2 linked regions of the Homo sapiens genome follow. The protein of the gene in region 1 interacts with the protein of each later gene in a pairwise test. Each region holds a gene or a part of one and is shown on either strand. Other genes may lie near its edges. The genes, in order: SECISBP2 and SMAD9.

Region 1 (3,977 bases):
ATAGGTGCCTTTTCATTTGTTCAGATTTTCTGTTGCGGGGATGGTTTAAAAGACAGGGTCTCACTCTGTTGCCCAGGCTGGAGTGCAGTGGCATGATCATGGCTCATTGCAGCCTTGAACTCCTGGGCTCAAGTTACTGAGCTTGCCTCCGCTTCCTGAGTAGATTGACTACAGGCACATACCACCACACTGGGCAAATTTTTTTTCTTCTTTTTTTTTTTTGTAGAGACGGGATCTTACTATGTTGCGTAGGCTGGTATTGCGTTCTTTAACAGCATGCTGAAGTTGCCTGTAAATCTTTTCATGTTTCTTGAAAAATTCATTCCTACCAACTATAGTCTTGTGCTGCTGTTGTAAATGGAGTCATCTCTTTGATATATGCCAACTGGCTGCTGTGTGCTTGTGCCACACCCCCTCATGTATTTCTCATGCTGTTAGGAGTACTTCTCAGGTGCTGTTGGGTTTTCCAGGTGCATCACCTGCACATGGTACTCATTTCACCTCCATCCTCTCTCTGGTGCACCAGCCTTGGCTGGTCCCTGGCCCAGAAGCAGGGTCAGGGAGTAGAGGGTGGTGAGCCCTCGGGAGCCAGACCTGTGCCTCGACCAGGGGTACAATGTGGGATAAGAAACTTAACCTTTCTGTGCCTCTGGTTGTGCATCTGTCAGTGAGGACACAGCATCTGTCTGCCTTTTGGGATTTGGGGGAGGACACAGGAGCTAATAGGTGGTAAGTTTCAGTAATACTAATAGTTAACTTTTCCTGTTAAGACAATACCAGCTGTGTGTTTTCTTTCCATTTTTCCCCATATTTTTGGAGAGTTGATTCTGCAACTTGCTTTCTCCTTGTATTTTCAGGGGCGTCTGCCTTGGATATAAAATCATAGATGGGTGTGTTGCTAAGAAAAAGCTCTTTGCAACCAGTATTAACACCACACTCCATGTGACATGTCTTCCTGTCATTTTTCATTGTCCTTTGACCAGGTGGGCTGGATGACACTTTGCACACAATTATTGATTATGCCTGTGAGCAGAACATTCCCTTTGTGTTTGCTCTCAACCGCAAAGCTCTGGGGCGCAGTTTGAATAAGGCAGTTCCTGTCAGTGTGGTGGGGATCTTCAGCTATGATGGGGCCCAGGTGAGTGCACAGGGCACAGGCCTCTTCAGTCACTGCCCGTGGGAGGAAGTGGGGGCAGGTGGTCAGTGTGGGCTCACCCACAGAGCAGCCCCAGAACCTCCAGTAGGCTGTCATTGAGGAGGAGCCACCACTTAGGCAGAACCTTCTTATAAAAAAGTAGCCTTTGTCTCCTTGACATCATGGGTTGTCTGGTTCTGAACTGAGCTCTGTTCTGGGCTTGCTGCTGACATAGTGGCACCTCAGGCAGGCCCAAGAAGTCGGCCTAGCCCACTCTTTCCTCTGGGGCAGCATCCCTGGTACCCACCCATAAGCATGAGGTCCACATTACCCCATGTCACCCCTGCTTCTCTGTGGAGGTGGCCATTGCTGAGTTTGAGGGACCCGTGTCCTCTGTAGCTGGGATGTTACCTGTGTGCTCTCACTTGTGCCCAAGGATCAGTTCCACAAGATGGTTGAGCTGACAGTGGCGGCCCGACAGGCGTACAAGACCATGCTGGAGAATGTGCAGCAGGAGCTGGTGGGAGAGCCCAGGCCTCAGGCACCTCCCAGCCTACCCACACAGGGCCCCAGCTGCCCTGCAGAAGATGGCCCCCCAGCCCTGAAAGAAAAAGAAGAGCCACACTACAGTGAGTGCTTAAGGGAGAGTTGTGTCAGGTCGAGTGTCCTCTTATTTACTGACTTTAATTAGGAGTCCCTAGGTGAGCAGCTTGACAATGCTGCAAGACCAGCTGAGTAGCAGGGCCTGGTAAGTCCAGCCCATTGCCTAAGAGGTATTATCAGACTTTTGAAGTGGGAAGGGCTTGTCAGTGACTGTCTCAGACTTCAAGTCAGATGTCTTTTGACAATGGGTGGCCTTAAGGATAGCTGTACCCAAGACAGGCTTGGAAGGCCAAGTAAAGGTTCAGTCCTCTCCTAGCCTACCTACACAAGGCCCCAGCTGCCCTATAGAAGATGGCCCCCCAGCTTCTCCTCAATAAGGGGCAGCCCGGCCCAGCAGGCTGAGAACAGTGAGTGAATGTCTGCCAGGGCACCTCTGAGCACCGTGAGCTGCTGGGCAGTGGCCACAGGCTCCCTCTCTCATGCTGCTGGTTTTCTTACAGGAGTTTTCCTACTTGTTGATGCCTATTCCTCACTCGTGCTGTTTTCTCATTTTAGTTGAAATCTGGAAAAAACATCTGGAAGCATACAGTGGATGTACCCTGGAGCTAGAAGAATCCTTGGAGGCTTCAACCTCTCAAATGATGAATTTGAATTTATGAGAGTTCTTGCCTGTGTGTCTGTATTTTGGGTAAGGAGGGGAGGTCTGAAAAAGACTTTGGGGCTTTTTCTTCTGTTTTTCATGACAATGTAATTTGTGTAACTGTTGAATCTGGAAATTGATCAGCATTAAAGGGCACATGAAGCAGTGTCTGCAGGCGTTCAGTGCTGCGGAGCCTGTTAAAGGTCACTCAGATGTGCAGGTGTTAATCTTCTCTAAAAGCCTGGTGATACAGCTCTGGCTTTCTGAGCACACTACGGATCTGGAAAATACTGGAAAATGTGATACTTAGAATACTTTGGCTGCTAAGGAAACTTCCTCTCCATTGCAGAATAGCTGAGCCAAGTGAGTGAGTTTGCAGAAAGCAGGTGGTGAGCTCCTGCCTGCTGGAGGTTGCCATGGAGGGCCATTCCTGCCCGGCAACAGCACCGTCCTGCAGGGAGCCACTTGGCAGAAGGGTGCAGGGCTGCTGGTGTCAGAGCAAGAGGGCTACAGGGAAAGGGCCCTTTCTCAGGGGATGTAGCTTTTTTAAAAGATTTGGGAACACTTGGAGGATTTGCTAAAATGAGCCTCAGAAGGAAAATTGGTTTTCTAACCTGTGACTTTTTGAAATGAATTATTCCTTTCAGTCTTTATTTTTCAAAGAAACAATGTGTATTGAAGTACCTAGATTTGTTTGATAATCAACAAATCTTTCCTTTTTCAATGAACATATTCTGAATGTGGTTTCTGTCTTAGACCAGGAGGACAGAGTTTGCTTTCATATTTTCCCTGTAAGTAAGAGGGCTTATTTATTTTAAATAAAGAGTAATTATTAAATTTTGTTTCAGACTCTGGTGATTTTAGGCTTCTCAGTGGTCTCTGTCTTACTTGATGATTCCTATGTCTTAATTTACCTCCTTTGGACAGTCTGGGCCCTGAAATAAAAGGGGGCCGCGTAGTGGGGGTTCTGCTATCCCCAGCACTCCTAGGTCTGGAAGTAGTGATTGTCAAAGCCTCCAGCACTGCACAGACCTGCCGGAGCCAGATCCTGGCTCAATCCCAACCTGCACTTGCGTTTTCACCACAGCCAATGGCAGGAAAGAATTTTCACTGCTTTTTGTATTGTTTTGGCTTTGAAAGTGCTCTTAATTGAATTCAGTCTTGGCAATATTGTACCTCTTGAGAAGCGGCCTGTGATGAGCACATAAAATTGGAATAGTGAGTCAGAAATGACATGCTATGAGCAGGGCTGGAAATGTGACCAGAGGTTGGTGTATGAAGGCACCGTCTGCCCTGTCATCTGTGGAGCTCACAGTGACCAGTGTGAGCCTTGCTGTTCTTTACACGTTCTGAGCTGTTTAGACATGGGAAGTAGATGTGGTCAGCCAGGCCATCAGTAGTCCCAAGCAGCAAGTCATCTCCACCCATTTATCTTTCAGGGCAGTCAGCGGGGCCAGCAGGAAAGGAGAGGTCTTTCCTGCTTCCTCCTCCCCTCATCAGTAAGTAAATAGCAAGTTGTGGTAAGTTTGAAAATAGGAGATTATTTGAGAATGAAAGTTCCAAAATTAATTTGTGGGCAAAAAGACAAAATAGCCTATC
Region 2 (3,813 bases), on another chromosome or scaffold:
AGAAATTACTTACTGATGCATTTCTCAGAATGTATTTCCATCATTAAGTGATACCTGTCTGTACTTAAAACCATTTTTAAAAATAACTGCCTGGAATGATTTCCAGCAACTCTTTCATTGGCTGTTTTCAGACCTAGACATGAGATATCTTCTACTTACCTGAACTTGAACAAAGTAGCAGCCAAAAACCCTGCCTTAGTTCAGTTTAGTACAGTTCAGTTCAGTTGTTTGGGGCGGGGGGAGGAGGATGTTTAATTTTTACAGCTCATCATTATCAAGGCCATTTTAAAACCTTTCAGGACCCCAAGAACTGGTAAAAGATTATGTTGACTTGTCCCAGATACCTCAAAATAAAACTTTTATGGCAGTTTTCTCCGATTAGCCATCTGCCTCATTTTCAAAATCACACAAAGCTTACCAGCATAATGAAATCAAATGAAAATATCTTCTTTCTAGATTTTCCTGACTAGTTTATCTTCATTCCTTCACACTGGCTATAACAGGGTTTTACTGCGATTCTCTTTGGATTGAGTGTTCCTGTGGCATTCCAGGCAGGAATATCGTTTTCATGGGAACTTTCTTTGATTGGACAGCTGCCTCATTCCGGGAAACAAAATTTTGGACGAGTCCCTCAAAACTGAACCTCCCTCTCCTCTCTTCTCTCTCTCTCTTTTGGGAGAGGTCCCTGTCTGCTGGTGCCCCATCATTCTCCATCAATGGGGCACACGACCTTCACTCTGAAAATAAACCTTGACGTCGTAAAGACGACCCACCTGGAGTCTCCACCCGGCGGTAGTGGTAAGGGTTAATGCACACTTCTTTCTGCTTGGAGCCAAATGGGAACTCACAGCACTCCAGCGGCTTCAGCTCGTGGTGGGACTGCAGATCCGGCCAGCGCCACACGCGACAGTAAATCACATGGGGCAGGCCCTTGCGGTGGGACACCTGCAGCCGCCCGTCCAGGGAGCGGGGAATCGTGACGCATTTGCTGGGCTGCCCCGGGCAGCTGAGAGCCCTCTCCAGCTCGTCCATGGCTCCCTTCTTCTTCTTTAACTTCTTCACTAGAGAGTCCACTGCCTTCTCTGCCCACTTTTCCTCTTCATCTCCTTGCTTCCAGCCTAGCAGTCTCTTCACTGCGGGGCTGGTGAAGGAGAAGAGGGAGCTGATGGGGGTGGTGGAGTGCATAAGAGGCCACAGCAGGCTCCGGCGCGCACGGGAACCGCACAGCCCTTCACGGCAAAGTGGGCGGCGAGTAGCTCTCCAGGGGTGGCATAGGGACCAACCCGCCCGTTCTTCTGGGAGCAGCTGGGACCAATTCAAGTTGCGAAGTGTGTTGACTTTCTCCTAAGCCCTTGAACAGGGTGGCCAACTCTGGAAAACACGACAAGACTTCAATTAGCTTAATCGGAGTAACATTCAGAAAAAGTTGAAGTTGGATAGAAAGAGGCAATCTACACCTACAGTCCCAGCTACTCAAGTGGGTGAATGGCTCGAGCCCAGGAGGTCAAGGCTGCGCCACTGCACTCCAGCCTGAGCAACAGAACCAGGCCCCAAAGTTGGATAGAAGGGAAAAAACATTCTTCAAATGTTTTAATTTTAAAACTGTTGTCTTTGACTCTGCCCTCTCCTGTATTTCCTATATCCAGGTCTCAGGTCATTCTGCCCTCAAAGTCTTTGGAGTTTGTCCTTTCTCTCCATTTCTGCCAACACCTGAGGTCTGACTCACCACACCACTTCTCTGAAGTAGCATCTCTCTTTCTCTCTTTCAATTCGAATTCACTTACTCCCAAACACAGCTCTTATCATTTTCCCATTTAAGAAATGACAGTGGCTCCTTGGTCTCCCAAGTGTAAACTCCTCTGCCTGGGTTTTTCCAGGGCCTCCATAATCTGCCCTCAACATGAGTATGTTCTTTCTTTCTCATTTTTAGTTTGCACAAGCAATCCATCTTCTTGTAGAAAATAAATACTAATGAAAAGAAAAGAAAAAAAGAATCGTGAATAATCTCACCACTCCTGGACAGCCATTCTTAACATAGTCTTCCAAACTACTTTTCAGGACAGTGGCTCTCAAAGTGTGCCCCAAGGATCCCTGGGAGTCCCCTGAGATCCTTTTAAGGGGACTATGAGGTTCTCTCTTTTCCAATTACTTATTTGTGTGAACTAACTTCGCTTCACATACTTCAACCAAAACAACATAACACAATAGAGTATATGGAGAAAAGATGACAATCTAGGTGCCATTTATTAAGCCAAGTATTAAATAGATTTGCAGTAATATAAAACAATAATACTCTTCTCAATAACTTTTTTGAAAACAATGTTTTAAATAAAAATATTTTATGTTAATACAGTTTTTTTAATGATTCAATCAATATTTTTTTAATTTCTTAGTTTCAATTTTTAAAATGGTAAAAATTGATAGATACAGCCTACAGAAGCAAGAGTTCTTTGGAGTTCTCAATAATTTTTAAAAGTGGAAATTTTCAAGACCCAAATGCATGAGAACTGCTTTTCTAGAAATTATACACTATCACACACCAATACATACACAAAAAAGCACAGCTGTCACATTTGTTATTTGGCCTAAAATCAGCTTAATTCTTCTTTGCCCTGTCATCCACAGGAGATGTTCTTTCCCAGTTATTCAGCAGTCTCATTTAAATTTCCTGAGGTCGAACTGTATTTCCTCTTCTGTGAAATAGTTGGCTTAAACAAAACCTCCTCCTCCTTCCAGATTTTAGAAACCAGCTACCTCATTAATGTTTAAAGTGGCTGGCTGGTAACATTTTGGAGTAAGCTGACTCAAGTATTTTGGGATCTTGGAATCGATGTAGCTTATAATCTCCAACAATTGTTTGTTTAATATGCATTAAATATAATTTTCTCCTTTGCTTCCCTGGAGGGCAAGCTGTACCTTTCTGAGTCCAATTCTATAAACTTCTTTCGAACAAAGGTGCCTTATAACCCCCCGCTAGGGTGATCATTATCGGGCACCTCAGGTGAGGAGGATGGCAGCATGGTCCCACAATAACGGATGAGATTTAATAAGTATAAAGCAATAGTCACATCACTTTATTCCTCATCTGGGCTTTATCTGGCATTGTACAGAGATAAACTATGACAAAAGGGAGAGTTGAGAGCTCCATAGCTGCTCTTTTCGCTTGGCAGTTTGACTTACACTCAGTTTTATTTGGAAAGGTTGATTTTGTGGCTTAACAATCATGAATTTATAAAGTATAGTTAAGTCATTGTGTTCAAGTTCTGTTTACTTAATCTAGTCAGGCTGCCTTAAAGCAATGGCTGAAGAGGGTTAGAAGCTTTAAGGAGAAGTCTCATGATAGAATAACCTGAACCCCAAAAGAGTTGTGAATTCTGCTTAGTTTTACATGGAACTCATTATTAGTAAGTTGTGGTATAGATCTTTAAGCTGAGGTCAGTCATAGAGAAAAGCTTTTTATAAAAACACTCAGCGAGTTAAACCAAATACACCTTTTAGAAACTTTTGCTCCATGAAACAACAGTTCCCTAAACCAGGTTTTGTTTGGTTCGTTTTTTTAAACTGTGGGTTTCTATTTACCAATGGCATGTGAAATCAATGAATTGGAACAAAACAGCTTTTGCACAAACAACAAAACAAAACAGACTTTATTGCAGAGCAGCTGACGAAAAATAAGTATAATAATAATCATTTCATGAAAAATTTTCATTCACAGGTATGTGCTGTGTGTGTGTGTGTGTGTGTGTGTGTGTGTGTATGTGTGTGCGGTGTATGTGTCCAGGGTTACAATGGAAAATTTACTTGTTAAGTTGG

Evidence for each region.
Region 2: the proteins of SECISBP2 (region 1) and SMAD9 interact in a two-hybrid assay, tested with the Homo sapiens proteins (one large-scale study listed by BioGRID and IntAct).

What each region holds. Positions count from the first base shown.
Region 1 is NC_000009.12:89,356,428-89,360,404, forward strand, and holds the end of SECISBP2 (selenocysteine insertion sequence-binding protein 2), read left to right. Parts: intron 1-983; coding exon 984-1,138; intron 1,139-1,571; coding exon 1,572-1,764; intron 1,765-2,293; coding exon 2,294-2,397; 3' UTR 2,398-3,236; downstream 3,237-3,977. UniProt on the Homo sapiens protein: mRNA-binding protein that binds to the SECIS (selenocysteine insertion sequence) element present in the 3'-UTR of mRNAs encoding selenoproteins and facilitates the incorporation of the rare amino acid selenocysteine.
Region 2 is NC_000013.11:36,878,505-36,882,317, forward strand, and holds part of SMAD9 (mothers against decapentaplegic homolog 9), read right to left. Parts: intron 2,274-3,813; exon of another isoform or gene 1,785-2,273; intron 1,372-1,784; 5' UTR 1,186-1,371; coding exon 774-1,185; intron 1-773. UniProt on the Homo sapiens protein: Transcriptional modulator activated by BMP (bone morphogenetic proteins) type 1 receptor kinase. SMAD9 is a receptor-regulated SMAD (R-SMAD).